3 separate regions of the Homo sapiens genome follow, and regions 1 and 2 are each linked to region 3. The links come from fine-mapping of genetic effects on gene expression. A gene starts in region 3. Each other region holds a variant in brackets. All regions are shown on one strand. Distances are from middle to middle.

Region 1 (2,798 bases), 610 kb before region 3:
CTGGACCCACCTCTGCCCCCATTTATAGCACGACTTCCCGACCCCCTCTCTTTTCTCCCCATTTCCCTTGATCCGTCTATTGCATGAGGCTTCTGCGGCTGGCACTGACTTGAGGGGGTGGTGCTGGTCCAGCACTGGGGTGGCCTCCCTGCTGCAGATGGTGGGCCACTGTGGCTTCCTTGGCCACCAGCGGTAGAGGCACGGGTCCCTGACCCCCACAAATCCAGTGGCCCTTGGCTCCCAGGACGTGCTCCCTCCTCACCTCCCAGCCCCGAAACATGAAGTGCTGGGGGGCGCAGGGCTCCGAGCCATCCACACTTGAAGATGCACCCCATTTCTCCCCCTTATCTGGGTGCCTACTCAGTAGCTCCCTGGAGTGCCTGACAGGCACCCAGGCTGGGCCTGAACAAGACCCAAATCCCAGTGGCACCCCAGGCTGCTTGGGCCTCTGCGCAAGGCGCCAGGCTCCCCAGGGTCAGGCACGGCCTTGGCACTGCCATCTTGAGTTCCCACCCACATCCCACCCACTGGCAAAACCCAGCCAGAATCTACCCTCTGCTTTCTCTCATCACGGTCCCCTCTGGTCCAGCCACTGTCCTCCCCCACCTCGGCCGGCACAATGGCTGTCCTACCGGTCTCCCTGCAGGGGAGCTCACCCCCCATTCTCACCCCTGCTGTGCCACCCAGGGCACCCCGGCCTGGTGCCTGCCCCTTCTTCCTCCCTCCAGCCACACGGCCCCCTGGCTTCCACACCCAGGGCCTCTGCACCGTGGTTTCTTTGCCTCCCTCTCCTGCTTCAGGCCTCGACTCAGATGCCGCCTCCTCAGACAGGCCCTAGTGATCCCATCCATCGAGCCCCCAGTTCTACTTTGTGACTTTTTGCTCCATGTAGCTCAGCCTGATGTTACGGGAATTCCTATCACATTCCCTTCATCCCAGGGACTCAGCCTGTGTTGTCTGCCGCTGTATTCTAGAACCAGAGTCCTGGGGGCAATGTTGAGGTGTTCAAACTACCCACCCCACCCCACTCCACCTCCTGCTCACAGCCATCAGCAGCCATCAGTCCCCAGCCCAGGCTCCAGTGAAAATGCTGGGAGAACGTTCGGGGACTCAAACAAGGCCGGCAGCACAGCCCTAGAGACCTCCGGAGAGGGAGGTGTGCTCTGGGCACCGTCCAACAGCTCAGCCCCGCTGCCACAGCATCCCAGTCCCAGGGTGCTCCTGTCCCCAGCAGGAGGCTGCTGGGAGGCCTCCCTCCTCTCAGGGCCTCAGTTTCCCCAGCGTCCCAGTGGGGCTGTGCGTGGACAGCTTGGCAGTCCAGTCGCGCCCCGGACAGCACTGGGACATCACCTGGCCCTATCCAGGGCCAGCCAGCCCGGGAGGTCAGGCCTAGGCCTCGCGCGGGGCCAGACGTCCCCAGTAGCCACATCACGTGGCCACTCGCGCCCCACGAGCAAAAGAGGAAACCGAGGCCAAGAGGAGGCGGGGCGGGGCCGACCCAGCCGCGGGCGTCCTGACCCACAGACTCCGCCCCGGCCCCCACCACTCACCCGTACGCGGAGACCAGGGTCCCGCCCAGCAGGGAGCCGAGGATGACTCCGACGCCGAAGCAGAGGCCCAGCCGGCCCAGGGCCGCGGGCCGCTCCTCGGG[T/C]GCCGACAGGTCCGTGATGACCATCTGGGCGGCTGGGGACGGGGCGGGGGAGCTGAGCGGCGAAAGCCCCTCGGTGGGGCCCTTCCCCCCCTGACCCGCCCCTCCACAAGCCACGCCCCACGTCGCCCCCCACCCCCGTCCAGCCCTTAGGGCCAGACCCCGCGCGCACGCAGACCTCCCTGGAGGTGTCCCGGGTCCTCCGCAGGCTGCCCCCGACCCGGCCCCACCTGGACTCCAGTCCCCCCGGCCCTACCTGGCAGCGTGTGCATGAGCGCTCCGGGCAGGCGCGAGGCGAAGAGCAGGTAGACCCCGGGCAGGGCCGGGCTGGAGGCGGCCGCCAGGAGCAGGTAGAGCGCCAAGGCAGCCAGGAAGGAGAGCGTGAGCGCCGCCCGCGCCCCGCGCTGGTCTGCGAACCTGGGGGCCGAGGGGCGGGTCGGACCCTCACGGAGGCGGTCAGTGTCCCCTTCCCCCCGTCCAGGGGCTGCCCAGGCGGGGCTGACCAGGGAGGCTGGAGTGCGGGATGGGGATGGAGGGCGGGGGCGCCTGGGCGGCTGCTGGGAGGCCTCCCTCCTCTCAGGGCCTCAGTTTCCCCAGCGTCCCAGTGGGGCTGTGCGCAGACAGCTTCACTGAGCTGGGAGTCTGACCCAGGGCAAAGACCAACTCCGTGTAAAAATAAATGGTGGAATCCCAGGGGACCAAAGGGTGGGCCCGCGTTTTACAGAAGGCGTTTGTCAGGTTGGGTCTGAGAAAGCAGCGCCTTTCTCCCTTCTGTTCTGGGCCACTGGAAACCCTCCCAGAGATCGCTGCTGGTCTGCTGCCTGCGGAACCCTTCATTTCTGCCTACGGGTTGCTCTGAAGAGGCAACTCCCAATACGTGTCCCTTGCTCCCCTGTCTGCTGTGGCTTGTGGGAGGATGTCCCTGTCCTCTCTCAAGCTCAGTGTTCCCACAGCACTGAGACCCGGGGTGTATGGAGCCCCCAAAGTCCCTCCTGCCTGGTCTCGGCAGGCCTACGGGCTGGTGCTTACAGCCACGAGGTGTTCACCAGTCACACTCTCTCTCTGGCCACAGGCAGGAGTAGTGGAAGGCGTGGGTGGGACACCCGGGAGCCTACCAGGGGCCAAAGTTCTTCTGCACCCCCATCGGCCT
Region 2 (2,798 bases), 77 kb after region 3:
TTTTTTATGGCTGTGTAGTATTCCATAGTGTATATGTACCGCATTTTCTTTATCTAATCTACCCTTGATGGGCACTTAGGTTGATTCCATGTCTTTGCTATTGTGAATCATGCTACAGTGAACATATGAATGCGTGTGACTTTTTGGTAGAATGATTAGTTTTTCTTTGGGTATATAACCAGTAATGGGACTGTTGCCTGGGATGGTAGTTCTGTTTTAAGTTATTTAAGAAATCTTCAAACTGCTTTCCACAGTGGCTGAACTAATTTACATTTTGATCAACAGTATATAAGTGTTCCTTTTCTTTGCAGCCTTGCCGTTATCTGTTATTTTTTGACTTTTTAATAATAGCCATTCTGACTGATGTGAGATGGTATCTTATTATGGTTTTGATTTACATTTCTCTGGTAATTAGTGATGGTGAGCATTTTTTCATGTTTCTTGGCCATTTGTATGTCTTCTTTTGAGATGTATTTGTTATTGAATTTTGCCCATTTTTTTTTTTTTTTGAGACGGAGTCTTACTCTGTTGCCCAGGCTGGACTGCAGTGGTGCAATCTCCGCTCACGGCAAGCTCCGCCTCCCGGGTTCATGCCATTCTCCTGCCTCAGCCTCCTGAGTAGCTGGGACTACAGGCGCCTGCCACCATGCCCGGCTAATTTTTTGTATTTTTAGTAGAGATGGGGTTTCACCGTGTTAGCCAGGATGGTCTCGATCTGCTGACCTCGTGATCTGCCCACCTCGGCCTCCCAAATCCTCATGCTAGGATTACAGGCATGAGCCACCGCGCCCAGCCAATTTTGCCCATTTTTTAATGGGGTTATTTGTTTTTCACTCATCAAATTGTTTAAGTTCCTTATAGATTCTGGACATTAGACTTTTGTCAGATACATAGTTTGAGAATATCTCCCCCATTCTGTAGGTTTTCTGTTTATTCTGTTGATAAACAGATAAACAGTGATTACCTTAGCATTTACAATATACATTTTAAATTTACCTAAGTCCATCTCCAAATAACACCATTTCACTTCATTAGTAGCACAGATAAGTCCTGTGTTAGTCCATTTGGCATTGCTATAAAGGAATGCCTGAAACTGGGTAATTGATAAAGTAAAGAGGTTTAATAGTTCTGCAGGCTGTATAAGAAGCATGATGTCATCATCTGCTTCTGGTGAGGCCTCAGGAAGGTTTTACCCTTGGCAGAAGGCAAAGAGGGAGCAGGCATGTCACATGGCAAGAGAGGAAGCAAGAGAGGTGCCAGACCCTTTTAAATAAACAGCTTTCACATAAACTTACTGCTGCAGAGAGGGCACCAAGCCATTGATGAGGGATCCACTCCCATGACCAAAACACCTATCACTGGGCCCAACTTCCAACATTGAGGATCACATTTCAACA[T/C]GAAATTTGGAGGGAACAAATACCAAACTATATAAAGTCCCGATTCCTCCTCCCATCCCTTATAATGCTTGTCATTTATTTTACTTACCCATATGCTGTAATAACCCAATGCATTCTTACTAATATTATTTGAAACAAATAGTTATCATTACATTGATTTAGAATAAGAAAAGATCTTACTTTTACCTTCATTTATTCCTTCTCTGATGCTCCTTTTCTCTTTATGCAGATTCAAGTTTCTGACCTATAATTTTCCTCTGTCTAAAAAAGAATCTTAACATTTCATTCGGGTGTGGTGGCTCACACCTGTAATCCCAGCATTTCTTGTAGGGCAGATCTGGTGATAAATTCCTTCCATTTTTGTTTGTCTGCAAAAGTCTTTACTTTCTCTTCACCCAGCCTATCACTGTATATAGGCTGGGTGCAATGGCTAACACCCATAATCCCAGCACTTTGGGAGGCAGAGGCAGGAGGATCACTTCATCCCCAGAGTTCAAGACTAGCCAGGGCAACATAGTGAGACCTCATCTCTACAGAAATAAAAAATAAAAACATTGTCAGGTGTGGTGCAGCACATCTATAGTCCTAGCTACTTGGGAGGCTGAAGCAGGAGGATTTCAAAGTCCAGGAGGTCAAGGCTGCAGTGAGCTATGATCACACCACTGCACTCCAGCCTGGGCAACAGAGTGAGACTGATGCTGAAAAAAAATTTTTTTTAATGATAGCCTAAGAGCTGTGAGAATTAATGTGAATTGCAGGACACATGTATCATCAACACTTTGAACATACTTGTGGCCCTTGTTCCTCTCAGGGCTTTAAAAATCATTTTTATATAATTTAAAAATTATATGTAAATATATATGCACACATACACACACATATACACATGTGTATATATACATATATGTGCATATACATACATGTATGTATATACACACACACACATATATATAAAACTGGATATAGAATTCTAGGTTGGTAGTATATGTCTTTCAACACTTTAATTATTTCATCTGATTGTCTTCTTGCTTGCAGTTTTCGGACAAGAGGTCATTGTAATTCTTATCCATATTTCTCTCTAGGTAATGCGGTATTTTTCCTTTTGTGTCTTTCAAGAATTCTTGTTGTCTTAGGTCTTCTCAGATTAAATATAATATGTCTATGTGTAGTTGAGGGTTTTTTAATGTTTAAAAAATTCTGCTTGGTGTTCTCTGAGCTTCCTGGATCTGTGGTTTGATGTCTATCATTAATTTTGCCAAGTTCTAAGCCATTATAACTGCAAACATCTCTTCTGCTCCATTCCTTTTTTCTTCTCTTTCTGGTATTCCAACTACAAGTATGTTACATTTTTTAAATTTCCCTCAGTTTTTGGTTGCTCTGTTCTGGTTTTGTTTTGTTTTT
Region 3 (2,662 bases):
GGGCTGCAGCCTTCCTGGGCCCCCTGAGCTCCTGCCTGAGAGTCCCCTGCAGATCTGGCTCTGACATCCCCTCATTAAAGGGGCCTTCCTCAGCCTTACCCCTGAGTGGCCCCAGCAGGCTCTGGCCCTCGCTCCCGCTCTCTGGATGTTGGATAAGTCGCTGCTGAGTCCCTGCAGGGAGGCGTCTGGCTAGAGCAGCCCCCACCCCCTCCCCACCCACATCCCAGGTCCTGAGTGGAACATCAGCCATGTGGAGCCCTCATGGACCTGCTGTGCCCAGCCCCAGGCCAGTCCCAGGCCTGCCTGGGACTGAGCCCTGACTGCACAGAGCCAGGTCCTGACCGCACAGAGCCACTTCCTGACCCTGCCCGACATATACCCACACTGTGCCCACGCTCCTGTGGGGCACGAGAACCAGGCAGGAACACTGGCTGTCACCCAGACCCGAGGCCCTGCCCAGGGGAGCTAGGACTCCAGGGCAGCCCCTCCCTGCCCCTGACCACCTCTGGCTCCTGCCTAGGGCCTGGCACCATTCTGGCTGTGAGGCGTCCAGCTGGGCTCGTGCCAGCCACCCTTGCACCCGAGGCCCCTCCCGATGCAGCCAGGCCTGGACCTCACTTACCCCATTGGTGCACAGCCTGGTACGGGTTCTTCTCCAGGGACGCTCGGCGGATGACAGCAAAGTGGGCCCCGAAGTAGGTAAGAGTCACCATGGTGGCCACAGAGAGGCCCAGCAGCTGTGGATAGGGCAGACTCAGAGTGTGGGGCATGGGACTGCTGCAGGAGCAGGGAGCTCGGCCCCAGCGGGCAGGGTTGGGGCTCTCTCCAGCTTCCCGGTCCCGTGAGAGACAGGCTCAGCTGCAGGGATTCCCGGTGTTTCCGTGGAGTGGTCTCAGGAGGCCTTCACTGCAGACGCCCCAGCACACTCACAGGCACCCCCACATGGTAGACGCATACACGCACAGCCCAGCTTCCCCAGACACCCAGGACCTCTGATCATTGTGTCTACGGAGTGGGAGTGAGCCCCACCCCTGTGCCAGCACCCTCCGGGGCAGGAAGGGGAGAAGATCCCTGGAGCCCGGCAGCCAGTGCCCCTCCACCCCAGCTCGCCCCAGGCCTCAGCCCCACTCAGGCCTCCTCCAGGCTCTGTGCTGCCCCTCAGGAGGAGAGACGGGGTTGCTCATGGTGGTCCCTGCCTGCCTGCGGCTGTCTGCAAGGGCAGGACACATGTCTGCAAGGGCAGGACAGGGACAGTAGGGCTGGTGTGTGTGTCAGGGGAGGGATAATCCCTGTGCTGAGGCCCTGCCACCCCTCACCCCTGCTCACCCCCACCCACCACCCACTCCTGCCCGACCTGCCTGTTACCAAGATAAAGAAGCAGGTGACCAGCATCTGGCATTTGGCAACCCTGACTCGACTCCAAGGCCCCATGACGGTTCCTCTCCTCTCCTCTCCTCCCCTCCCTTCCCCTCCCTGTGGTTTCCAGCTGGGCAGGGGCCTCAGACCGCAGCTCACTGCCCAGGAGGTAGGCTGCATCCGCCCCTCTGTCTGTCTGTCAACATCGCCCTAGGACCGAGCTGCTGGGTGCCCCGGAAGAAGGGCAGGCAGGAAGGGGAGGGGCAGTGAGGTTGGCTCCCCCCACCACCTCACCCTGGTGCCCCCAGCCCAGCCCAAGACACCAGGGCATTTGCTGACATCTGAGGCCCTTCCCAGGAAGACATGGCCTCGTTCTTGGTGTGGCCACTGAGGACGGCGCTGAGAGGGGGAAAGTCATGGGCAGGACCTGGTGTGGGATGTGGAGGAGACGGCGCCCGGGGAGGAGGAGGTGAGCTCCCCGTCCTGGGAGTGAGCAAGTGTGGACTGGGCCTTGGGGGCGTAATCCTTGGAGGAATTTGGATGGGGTCTCCTTGGAACATCATTATTGAGGTGTTCTTAGGAAACACCCTTTGAAATGTCCTGTGACAGCTTAAGTTTTGAGAAGGTCGTTGGTTTTAATGCCTTCGTGGGCGGCACTCATGGATATTTTGTCGCAGAGCCTTCTTGGGGCCACAGGGGTGGGCTGGGGCCTCGCTCACACTCACGTGGGGCCTCCAGGGGGAGGCTTTGTAAACCTCGAATTTGCAATTACACCGAGCCGTGTAATTACGTATGGGTGGGGGCAGCGCTGCGGCCCCAGTACAGGCAGGGTTTCCGTGGGCCTCTGGGGCAGGGTGGGCCTGAAGAGGGTGAAAATGTTCCAGGTGAATCCATCATTCAGGGACCACTCCGGGCCCTCCCAGGAGTGCTAACAGGCGGCTCTGCTCGCCCCTCGGTGCTGGAATTGCTCCTCCTGCATTTGGTCAGGACCTCATCAAGGGGGAGGGGGCCCCAAGACCTGCAGGCATGGCAACCCCAGCGTGGCTGTGGGAAGAGGGCCCAGCTGCCGCCCGCTCAGGAACGCTGCTGGAGGAACTGCTGAGGCCACCGCCTCCCTCCCTCTGCGGAGGGAGAACCAGGAGAACCAGGAGGGACAACCAGGACCCCCGTCCAGCCCAGCACCCCCAGGCAGCACCCTCTGCAGCTCTGGCCCCCAGGAATTCCCACCCTGAGTCTGTGGGGGCTTGTGGAGACCTCAGATGCCTGGCACCCACAGTGTCACTTCAGCTGGGGGCCTAGGTGTGGC

What was found. PIP is the estimated chance that this variant, and not a neighbour inherited with it, causes the effect.
Region 1: its variant is fine-mapped to the expression of C11orf21 in lymphoblastoid cells (GTEx, PIP 0.97).
Region 2: its variant is fine-mapped to the expression of C11orf21 in whole blood (INTERVAL, PIP 0.91).

The regions. Positions count from the first base shown.
Region 1 is chr11:2,908,463-2,911,260 of GRCh38, reverse strand. It overlaps SLC67A1 (solute carrier family 67 member 1), which reads right to left. Exons shown (of 11, transcript NM_002555.6): 4 at 1,905-2,065; 5 at 1,551-1,683. Among named protein-coding and RNA genes, the nearest start is that of SLC67A1-AS, 6.3 kb to the right of the region's middle. The variant T/C (reference allele first, on the strand shown) is at 1,652.
Region 2 is chr11:2,224,306-2,227,103 of GRCh38, reverse strand. No RefSeq gene overlaps it. Among named protein-coding and RNA genes, the nearest start is that of ASCL2, 45 kb to the left of the region's middle. The variant T/C (reference allele first, on the strand shown) is at 1,398.
Region 3 is chr11:2,300,919-2,303,580 of GRCh38, reverse strand. C11orf21 (chromosome 11 open reading frame 21) reads left to right here and starts at 1,663. Exons shown (of 4, transcript NM_001329958.2): 1 at 1,663-1,825. The coding sequence starts at 1,773. It overlaps TSPAN32 (tetraspanin 32), which reads right to left and starts at 1,568. Exons shown (of 10, transcript NM_139022.3): 1 at 1,366-1,568; 2 at 623-737. The coding sequence starts at 1,431.